2 separate regions of the Homo sapiens genome follow, and region 1 is linked to region 2. The links come from fine-mapping of genetic effects on gene expression. A gene starts in region 2. The other region holds a variant in brackets. All regions are shown on one strand. Distances are from middle to middle. Region 1 has its middle 84 kb from the start of SERPIND1. Region 2 holds the start of CRKL (CRK like proto-oncogene, adaptor protein).

Region 1 (5,368 bases), 230 kb after region 2:
CCCAGTTACTCAGGAGTCTGAGGCATGAGAATCGCTTAAACCTTGGAGGCAGAGGCTGCAGTGAGCTGAGATGGCGCCACTGCACTCCAGCCTGGGTGACAGAGCAAGACTTTGTCTCTAAATAATTAAATAAATAAATATGGCCGAACATGGTGCCTTAGGCCTGTAATCCCAACACTTTGGGAGGCTGAGGCAGGTGGTTCATGAGGTCAGGAGCCTGAGACCAGCCTGGCCAAGACGGTGAAACACTGTCTCTACTAAAAATACAAAAATTAGCCAGCTGTGGTGGCAGGCACCTGTAATCCCAGCTACTTGGGACACTGAGGCAGGAGAATCGCTTGAAACTGGAAGTCAGAGGTTGCAGTGAGCCGAGATTGCACCACTGCACCCTAGCCTGGGCGATGGAGCAAGACTCCATCTCAAATAAATAAATTAATAAATACAGAGCAAGATTCCATCTTAAATAAATAAATAAACTTACACCTGTAATCCTAGCACTTCGGGAGGCTAAGACAGGTCAATCACCTGAGGTCAGGAGTTCGAGACCAGCCTGACCAATATGGCTAAACTCCATCTCTACTAAAAATACAAAAATTAGCCGGGCCTTTTGACGTGTGCCTGTAGTCTCAGCTACTTGGGAGGCTGAGACAGGAGAATTGCTTGAACCCAGGAGGTGGAGGTTGCAGTGAGCCGAGATCTCGGCTGCACTTCAGCCTGGGTGACAGAGTAAGACTGTCTCAAAAGGAATAAATAAAATACAAAATAAAAAAAATGTAGTAAGATTGCAGAGTCGTGCCGCGGAAGCGTGCTGGTCCTATCCATGTAGTGAAGGCTGATTTCATACAGAAATGTCACAAGAACTTTTTTTTTCTTTTTCTTTTTCTTTTTTTGAGACGGAGTCTCGCTCTGTCACCCAGGCTGGAGTGCAGTCGCGCGATCTCAGCTCACTGCAAGCTCTGCCTCCCGGGTTTATGCCGTTCTCCTGCCTCAGCCTCCCGAGTAGCTGGGACTACAGACCTGTGCAGCAGATGCTGGGGGATCCACTAGGCCCAGACAGTCTTAGGACTTGTGTCTCTCCTGCTGTGCATCCATACTGGGTGCTTTAGAAATGGCAGGCAGACCAGAAGCCCCTGTAGCAAGTGAGGACAAAGTGTGGGAAGGCCGTGAGGGTCTGCAGTCCGAGATGGCCTTGTCCTCAACCTGCAGTGCACTGTTGATGCGCTGGAATGCCGCCTCCTTCTCCCGGTCCAGGTCTTCAGCAGTGACCCAGTACCCCAGCTCTAAGGGAGGTGGCAGCATCAAAGGCTCCCCTCGCCTGCGTGGCAGCAGGGGAAACTTGTGTCTACGGGGCCTAGAGGACTGGGATCTGGGGGAGCCACCCCTGGGGCCGAGTGTCTGCCCTGGTGCTGTATCTGCCGTCTTTTCACACTGGGTGTGACCCGAAGAGACAGCCTCAGGTCCGTCCTCACTCACTGTGTTTGAGGAACTGAGGGTCAGCTGGCAGTGGGATGAGGCTGGCGCCTCTTCCGCTTTCGTCCCGGGAGGTCTCCCGTAGAGCTGCAGGAGCTCGAGATGGCATTTCGTTTGGGGCACGAGCTGGTCCGGGAGGTCTGGGATCTCTGGTTCTGACCTCTGGGCACCTGCTGCAGCTGTGGCTGAGGCCCAGAAATGTGAAGGGCCTCCATCCACTCCAATAGTGACCCCAATGTGCGGTTCAATGTGGAGGGGGGAGGGGCTGCTGCGGCAGCTGCAGGAGCAGAAGTGCCAGGCCTTGTTCTTCTCATGCCCGCATCCATGCTTGCAGCTGGGAAGGGGGCAGGAATCAGCGAGGTGACCTGGGCTGAGTCCTGGGAGTGGGAAGAGGTGGCAGGAAGGGGATCTGAGGAGGAGAACAGGGGGCCTGGTGGTCTGTGCTTCTCCCCAGACATGGGAGCTGTAGAGGGGACCTCTGTAGCAGATGCTAGGGGGGCCACTAGGCCCAGGCAGTCTTGGGACTTGTGTCTCTCCTGCTGTGCATCCATACTGGGTGCTTTAGAAACGGCAGGCAGACCAGAAGCCCCTGTTGCAAGTGAGGACAAAGTGTGGGAAGGCCGTGAGGGTCTGCAGTCTGAGATGGCCTTGTCCTCAACCTGCAGTGCACTCTTGATGCACTGGAATGCCGCCTCCTTCTCCC[A/G]GTCCAGGTCTTCAGCAGTGACCCGGTACCCCAGCTCTACGGGAGGTGGCAGCATCAAAGGCTCCCCTCGCCTGTGTGGCAGCAGGGGAAACTTGCGTGTACTGGGCCTAGAGGCCTCGGATCTGGAGGAGTCATTCCTGAGGGCGAGTGTCTGCCCTGGTGCTTTCTCTGCCACCTTTTCACACTGGGTGTGACCCGAAGAGACAGCCTGAGGCCTGTCCTCACTCACTGTCTTTGAGGAACTGAGGGTCAGCTGGCAGTGGGATGAGGCTGGCCCCCTCCTCCGCTTTAGCCCCGGCAAGCCTCCCGTGGAGCTGTAGGAGCTGGAGATGGCATTTCGGTTGGTGCACGAGCTCGTCCAGGAGGTCTGGGATGACTGGTCATATCTGATTTCTGACCTCTGGGCATGGAGGTCTGTCTGCAGAGGCCCGGGCCCGGGCACAAAGGGAGAGAGGCCTCCATTGTCCCGCAGGGGCCGAAATGCAGACGGTGCATCCCCGGTGACCTCGGGGACCCTTCTCTGATCACCAGGATTCTCTTGGACTCTAGGGTCCTTGTCCTGCTCAGGCATCCCTGCCCCGCTCTCCTTGAGGGCCCTCAACACTATCTTCCCTGGACACAAGTCTGGGGACAGCCGGCTGTTGTGGACCCCAAAGGGGTGACTCCCAGCTCCTGGGCCCCACAGAGAGTCCATGTTCTCAGTGCAGTGGCTGAGCTGGAGGACGCCCTGGAACTCGGAGCACACAGCACTGGCTTGCTGTGGTACCTGTGCAATCAAATTGAAGGCAGGATCCCAGAAAGGAAGGCAGGGCTTGCAGGATCACGGAAAACCTTCTTAGAGTTGTCTTGACACCACGGATGTCAAGTGTCCGGGTGCTTGTAGGATGGCCTGCCACTCAGTCCACGGGCAGGAGCAACGGGGAGATCCCACAGGCAAAGTGAACTGGGGGATGGGCTGAACGGGCTCCAGGCAACTGAGCCCTACTGGCAGGTCCTCGGCCTGGGCCCGAACAGGAAGGAGGGGCACAGAGTGCCCAGGTAACCGCTCCTGGGAGCAGTGGGGAACCGTCGGTTGCTTGAACTCTCGAGAGCTGGGCTCTGAGCGTCCTCGTCCAGCCGCCAACTCGGCCAACGGCTAAGCCAGCAGTTTCTTCTGTTGCCGGGCAACGCGCCTTTTAAACCTGAGGGAGCGGGCGCGTGAGCACATCACGGCGCCCGTGACAGAGCGAGCTTAACGGATTAATAAGCGCAGCCAGGTACCCGCGCGAGGCACTTGCTGGCAATGGCGGGAGGCGGACGTGGGGGGTCATGCAATAGGTACTGGAAGGAGAGAGGCGGGCACAAAGGTCGCGGGAGGAACAGGTGCCCACAATGGCGGCAGATCTGCCCGTGGATCACTGAAGATTCCTGCTCTCCTGCTGAGGTGGAGATTGCAGTGAGCTGAGATCGCACCATTGCACTCCAGCCTGGGCAACAAGTGCAAAACTCAGTCTTCAAATAAAAAAAAGAAAAAGAAAAACAAAAGGCCGGGCGTGGCGGCTTATGCCTATAATCCTAGCACTTTGGGAGGTCGGGGCGGACGGATCACGAGATCAGGAGTTGGAGACCAGCCTGGCCAACATAGTGAAACCCCCTTTCTAGTAAAAATACAAATTTAGTCAGACATGGTGGCACGCGCCTGTAGTCCCAGCTACTCCGGCGGCTGAGACTGGAGAATCACTTGAACCCGGGGGCTGGGAAGGGATTGCGATGCGCCGAGATCGCGCCACTGCACTCCAACCTGGGCAACAGAGTCAGAGTCTTTTTTTTTTTTCTTTTTTTTTTTTTGAGACGGAGTCTCCCTCTGTCGCCCAGGCTGGATTCCAGTGGCCTGATCTCTGGGCTCACCGCAAGCTCCGCCTACCGGGTTCACGCCATTCTCCTGCCTCAGCCTCGGGAGTAGCTCGGACTACAGGCGCCCGCCACCACACCCGGCTGCTTTTTTGTATTTTTAGTAGAGACGGGGTTTCACCGTGTTAGCCAGGATGGCCTCGACCTCCTGACCTCGTGATCCGCCCGCCTCGGCCTCCCAAAGTGCTGGGATTAAAGGCGTGAGCCACCGCGCCCGGCCGAGACTCTGTCTTAAAAAAAAAAAGGCCGGGGCTGTGGCACTTTGGGAGGCGGAGGCGGGTGGATCACGAGGTCAGGAGTTGGAGACCAGCCTGGCCAACATAGCGAAACCCCGTCTCTACTAAAACTACAAAAAATTAGCCGGGCGTGGTGGCGGGCGCCTGTAGTCCCAGCTACTCTGGAGGCTGAGGCAGGAGAATGGCGTGAACTCGGGAGGCGGAGCTTGCAGTCACCCGAGATCTCACCACTGCACTCCAGCCTGGGTGACAGTGCGAACCTCCGTCTCAAAAAAAAAAAAAAAAAAAGAGAGAGAGAGACACAGAGAAAAATGTTTATTGACTTAATGCACTTTTATGCCTGTGTTCTTCAATTTGCTTAGGAAAGACCTACACTTGAGAGCTGGGACTGTGGCCGATTGTGGACATGAAATATATGGTTTCTTGCAAAAACTAGACACTGAATAATTACGATTTAGTTGAGCTAGAAATCCATTTGGTTTCTTCCATATTTTTCCAAAATTTTCATCCTTTTTTTTTTAATTTTGAGACGGAGTTTCGCTGTTGTCTCCCAGGCTGGAGTGCAATGGCGCGATCTCAGCACCTGCTGGCAATGGCGGGAGGCTAGGGGACGCTGGCTTGATAGGTACTGGAAGGAGAGGCGCGCGCACAAAAGACTTGGGAAGACCTGGCGCGCACAATGGCTGCAGATCCGCCAGTGGATCACTGAAGATTCCTGCTCTCCTGCTGAGGCGGGGATTGCAGTGAACTGAGATCGCACCATTGCACTCTAGCCTGGGCAACAAGAGGGAAACTCCATCTCACACACACACACACCAAAAAAAAAAAAAAAAAAAAAAAAACACACAAAGAAAAGAAAAAGTAGTGGCCAGGCGTGGCGGCTCACACATCCCAGCACTTTGGGAGATTGGGGCGGGCGGATCACGAGATCAGGAGTTGGAGACCAGCCTGGCCAACATAGTGAAACCCTGTCTCTACTAAAATACAAAAATTAACCAGACATGGTGGCACGCGGCTGTAGTCCCAGCTACTGGTGTGGCTGAGGCAGGAGAATCACTTGAACCCGGGA
Region 2 (5,368 bases):
ATTTTTTGTATTTTTAGCAGAGACGGGGTTTCACCATGTTGGCCAAGATGGTCTTGAACTCCTGACCTCGTGATTCGCCCGGCTTGGCTTCCCAAAGTGCTGGGATTACTGGCGTGAGCTACCACACCCGCCCATTAACTTGCTTTTTGAAACAGCTGTATTATTAGTACTCATGACCTCAACATAAGCATATGCATGGCTTAATGAATGCCTGGTATTAATTATATAATTCACGCTCACAAACGAGAGGAAGAATTTATTCAGTCATATTACAAATCTCACTACAGTGGGTTCTAAGATTCTCAACTCCTTAAATTGGAATTATATTGTGCTCAAAGTTGACTGCAACTACCAGCATCTGCCAGGAACCGCAGGTTTCACCAATCAGATTCTTGGTGTCCTGGTCTTTGTTATACAGTATTTGATTTATAATCACTTTCTCCCCACTTTTAAAGTCCATTTAGTTCAGTAGTTAATCTTGTAGTCATTATACTGTCATGGCTTTTTTTTTTCTATCTCTATCCCACTATGCAAACAGTTGGTGTCCTCAATTATAATAGCTTTTAATGTTTAAAGTTTAGAGTAATACCCGGTCGACAAATCCATAAAGTCATAAACATCTAACCCTGGAAAAACTGTATCAACACCCAGTCCTTTTAAAATAGATGTTTAAGAAACGAACTGGCCAGTTTGTTACTTTAAAAATTCTAGGCAACTTTTCAACTCAAATTTGGGATAATTTAAATAAAAGAAACCTCTGATAAAATCAGTGTTACAGGGCAAACACAACAATAAAAGCAAATCTCTGCTAAAACGCTTAAGGCAAATTAAAGCAACTAATCAATTAAAATAACGTATTTCACTTGGAAAAGAGAATGCTTGGTCACTTTGCGTTAATTTTAAAATAAGAAATACAAAATCATTAGACTTAACACAAAAAGCATGTCTGAAATTGAACTAGGATACAACTAAGTGTCATTCAAAAATTTTCCTTAATAACATTCTAGCCTAATTCCACCTTGGAAATTAACCAGACTGATCTCTGGCCTACTAATGGTCCTCGGGGAGAAAATATGCAATAAATTTTCCAAAAAATATCCTCGCTGAAGCCAATGCACCTTCTCTTATCTTTGTAATTAACGTACTATAAAAGTGGTGGTGTCTGGCCTGCTTCAAACTTGGCACCACAGTATCAATATACAGTTCTGATATTTTGGTTAAAGGTTTTTTTGTTTCTAAACGCTAAAGCATTTTCATTTTTTTGACTGTTCCAAAGGCTGCAGTCCTGGAGTTCTTAACCTGGAGTTCAGAGATCTGGAGGGAGTACAAGCACCCGGGATGGTGTGCAAACTTGTGTGTACGTGCCTTTGGCGGGGAGGGGTGGGGGTGGGGGTGGGGGTGGGGTGGTGAGTGCTCGGCTATCTTCAGATTCTCAAAGAAGTCTATGGCTTAAAAACGGTTTTTGGCCGGGTGTGGTGGCTCACGCCTGTAATCCCAGCATTTTGGGAGACCGAGGCAGGCGGATCACGAGGGCAAGAGATCGAGACCATCCAGGCCAACATGGTGAAACACCGTCTCTACTAAAAATACAAAAATTAGCTGGGTGTGGTGGCGTGAGCCAGTAGTCCCAGCTACTCGGGAGGCTAAGGCAGGAGAATCGCTTGAACCCGGGAGGCGGAGGTTGCAGTGAGCCGAGATCGCACCACTGCACTCCAGCCTGGCGACACAGCGAGACTCCGTCTCAAAAAAAAAAAAAAAAAAGAGGTTTTTAGAAAAACCAACAAATCCCTGCATCAGTATTACACCCAGAGAAAGTCACGAAAGGCAAAAAGCGTGCATTTTAACTATGCAACCACCGTTAAACATTCAAAACGCATCCTCTTCACATTGAGAAACAGCCTCGTGAGAGGGAAAAAAAAAAAACGCATCCTCTTATCCAGTGACCCAGATCCTGACACTAGCTTTCTGTTAGGAAGGCCTTCTGGAAAATAATTTGGTTCAGAATGCGGGGAATATGGGTTCAAGCGCGCCCCACCCCCCTATACAAGCACTCTTCGACAGACCCGGTTCTCGACCTTCCTCCGCGGTCGGGGAGGGCTCTCGCGTACCTGGGCGCAGGCTCGATGAGGGTGGTGGTGTCCAGGTAGTGGATCTTGTAAAACTCCAGCAGGGCCGGCAAATGGTCAAATTCCTGGTCCCCGATCTTAAAACGGCGGTTGGGCAGCGAGTTGATGATGTAGTGGGAGACCCGCGAGTTCTCGGACACCGACAGCACATAGTCCCCAGGGCAGGTGGAAGAATCGCGGACGAGGAACATACCGTGGCGCTGGCCCTGGAGCCGGGTCTGCGCCTCCTGGCGAGACACCGGCCCCATATACCAGGCGGAGCGGTCCGAGGAGTCGAACCTGGCGGAGGACATGGTGTTGGACCGGGGACTCTGCGGCGGTAGGGGCGGCGGCTGTCCTCGCCTGCTCTGCACGCCTTAGCCCGGCAGACGGCTTTGGGGCCGAGGAAGGGCCTCTCGCACACCTCGAGGAGCGCTCAGAGGGCTGGGCCAGCACTTTCCTCTCGGCTCCGGGCCCGCAGCATCCTCCGACGCCGCCCGCCTGCTCCGGGGCCGCCACACGGAGAGAGCCGCCCGGGAATGCACGGCAGAGCCGGGGGGTCGGGGCAGGCAAACCCGAGCCGCAGCGGAGGCCACCCCGGGGTTCTCGGGCTGCTCGGCGTCCCAGGGGTGCCTCCAGTGACTCCCGGCCTGGAACGCGCCGGCGCCGCAGCTCGACGGGTCTTCACCGACCCCCGCCGTCACACGAGGCACCGAACTCGAAGGAGCGTCGCGCCTCCGGGGTGCTTTTGCCCAGCTTGTTCCCAATAGCCACAGCAACAAAATGGCGGACGCGGGAGAAGCGGCAGCCACCTCCCCCTCCGCTCAGCGCGCTCCGTCTGCGCACGCGCTGGGCCCCGGCTCCCGGCGGCCGCCGGGGCCCTCCCGTTACGTCACACAGCGCAGCCAATCAGGAGCACCGTCGCGACGATCAGGGTGGGCGCTGGTCGCGCCCGCTCCCGCGTTCCAGGAGGAGGCTGAAGAGGCGCCGGCGGTAGGCACTCTCTTCCTGGGCCGCTGCGCGCCGCTGGGGGCGCTGCGGCTGCCGGGTCTCCCAGCGCTGGCAGGAAAACAGCTGGAGCCGAGAGGGAACCGCGTTTCGAAAACCTGCTTCTGGGAACAAAGCGTAACGTGCAGGCTGAATCGCGGGCCAGGGAGGCGTGGCACTGAGGCGACCTGGCCAGCCTAGGGGCCTGAGGGAGGTCAAGGACTGACAGGTCCCGATGGGCCGAGGTGGCCCAGTAAAAGGATGAGCCCAGGGGCAGATGTGACCACCAGATAGGTGACTGACTGAATGACTCAGTCCCCAGGTGGCCTGATAGGCTAAGGAAGCCCTAGTGGCTACGTGACCCGCTAAATGGAGTGAGAGGAGAGAGAAGGTGAGGGTTAGATTGACTCAATTAAGTGGTCAAGGAAGTCCACAAGTGGGTAACCTGGCTATCATGGGCTCTGAACTGCTGAAAGTAAAATACAAATGCCTCTCGGGCGTGGCCCCGAGGCTTCCCCTGCCCCGGATTATGCCTGCTTCTGCCTATTTATTAATCCCTATTTGTTTTTGTTTGTTTTCTTTCTTTCTTTCTTTCTTTCTTTCTTTCTTTCTTTCTTTCTTTCTTTTCTTTTTTCTTTTCTTTTCTTTCTCTCTCTCTCTCTCTTCCTTTCCTTTCCCTTTCCCTTTCCTTTCCCTTTCCCTTTCCTTTCCTTCTTTCGACGGAGTCTCGCTCTGTCACCAGGTTGGAGTGCAGGGGCGCGATCTCGGCTCACTGCAACCTCCGCCTCCCGGGTTCAAGCGATTCTCCTGCCTCAGCCTCCCGAGTAGCTGGGATTACAGCTGTCCGCCGCCATGCCCTGCTAATTTTTGTATTTTTAGTAGAAACGGGGTTTCACCATGTTGGCCAGGCTGGTCTCAAACTCCTGACCTCAGGTGATCTGCCTGCCTCAGCTTCCCAAAGTGCTAGGATTACAGGCGTGAGCCACCGTGCCCAGCCTGTTTGTTTTATTTTGTTTGTTTTTGAGACAGGTTCTCCTTCTGTCACCCAGGCTGGAGTGCAGTGGAACTATCATGGCTCACTGCAGCCTTGATTTCCCCATCTCAAGGGATCCTCCCACCTCAGCCTTCCGAGTAGTTGGGACTACAGGCTCGCGCTGCCATGCCCAGCTAATTTTTTTGATTTTTTTTTTTTTTTTTTTTTTTTTGAGACGGAGTCTCGCTCTGTCGCCCAGGCTGGAGTGCAGTGGCGGGATCTCGGCTCACTGCAAGCTCCGCCTCCCGGGTTCACGCCATTCTCCTGCCTCAGCCTCCCAAGTAGCTGGGACTACAGGCGCCCGCCACTACGCCCGGCTAATTTTTTGTATTTTTAGTAGAGACGGGGTTTCACCGTTTTAGCCGGGATGGTCTCGATCTCCTGACCTCGTGATCCGCCCGCCTCGGCCTCCCAAAGTGCTGGGATTACAGGCGTGAGCCACCGCGCCCGGCCTTTGATTTTTAATAGAGACGAAATCTCACCATGTTGCCCAGGCTCGTCTCAGACTTTTGAGCTCAAACAATCCTCCCCCTCAGCCAAGATGTGAGCCACCCCGCCCAGCTATGTATGAAACAAGTTAATATATGCAAAGTGCTTAGAATAGTACCTGGCACATAGTAAGCATCATATGAGTCTTCCATTATTATTATTCAGTCATTCCCTGGGCCTCTACCTCTATACCCTAAAACCCTGAGCATACACCCTCAGTGGGTGGGTGAGGGTGGAGAGAAAAATCTCCACTTTGTTTTCTAACTACTTTTCACTGTCAGATTTACCACTTCATAATCACCTGCTCCTTGCCCAGCCCTTTTTTTTTTTTTTTATTCTGATACGGACTCTAGCTCTGTAGCCCAGGCTGGAGGAGTGCAGTGGCGTGATCTCAGCTCACTGCAACCTCTGCCTCCCAGGTCCAGGTTCAAGCAATTCTCCTGCCTCAGCCTGCCAAGTAGGTGGGATTGATTACAGGCATGCACCACCATGCCCAGCTAATTTTTGTATTTTTAGTAGAGACAGGGTTTCACCATGTTCGCCAGGCTGGTCTTGAACTCCTGACCTCATGATCCTCCTGCCTCAGCCTCCCAAAGTGCTGGGATTACAGGCGTGAGCCACCGCCTGTAATCCTAGTGGTGATTTTTTAATTTTTAAATTTTTTGTAGAGATGAGGTCTCACTGTATTGCCCAAGCTGATCTGGAACTGCTGGGCTCAGGTAATCCTCCCAGCTTGGCCTCCCAAAGTGTTGGG

Evidence for each region. PIP is the estimated chance that this variant, and not a neighbour inherited with it, causes the effect.
Region 1: its variant is the best candidate, but not a certain one, in a credible set for the expression of CRKL in whole blood (INTERVAL, PIP 0.81).

What each region holds. Positions count from the first base shown.
Region 1 is chr22:20,687,530-20,692,897 of GRCh38, reverse strand. It overlaps the pseudogene POM121L4P. Among named protein-coding and RNA genes, the nearest start is that of SERPIND1, 84 kb to the left of the region's middle. The variant A/G (reference allele first, on the strand shown) is at 2,174.
Region 2 is chr22:20,914,986-20,920,353 of GRCh38, reverse strand. CRKL (CRK like proto-oncogene, adaptor protein) reads right to left here and starts at 2,947. Exons shown (of 3, transcript NM_005207.4): 1 at 2,109-2,947. The coding sequence starts at 2,419. RefSeq lists an enhancer at 2,231-2,290 and a silencer at 2,581-3,030.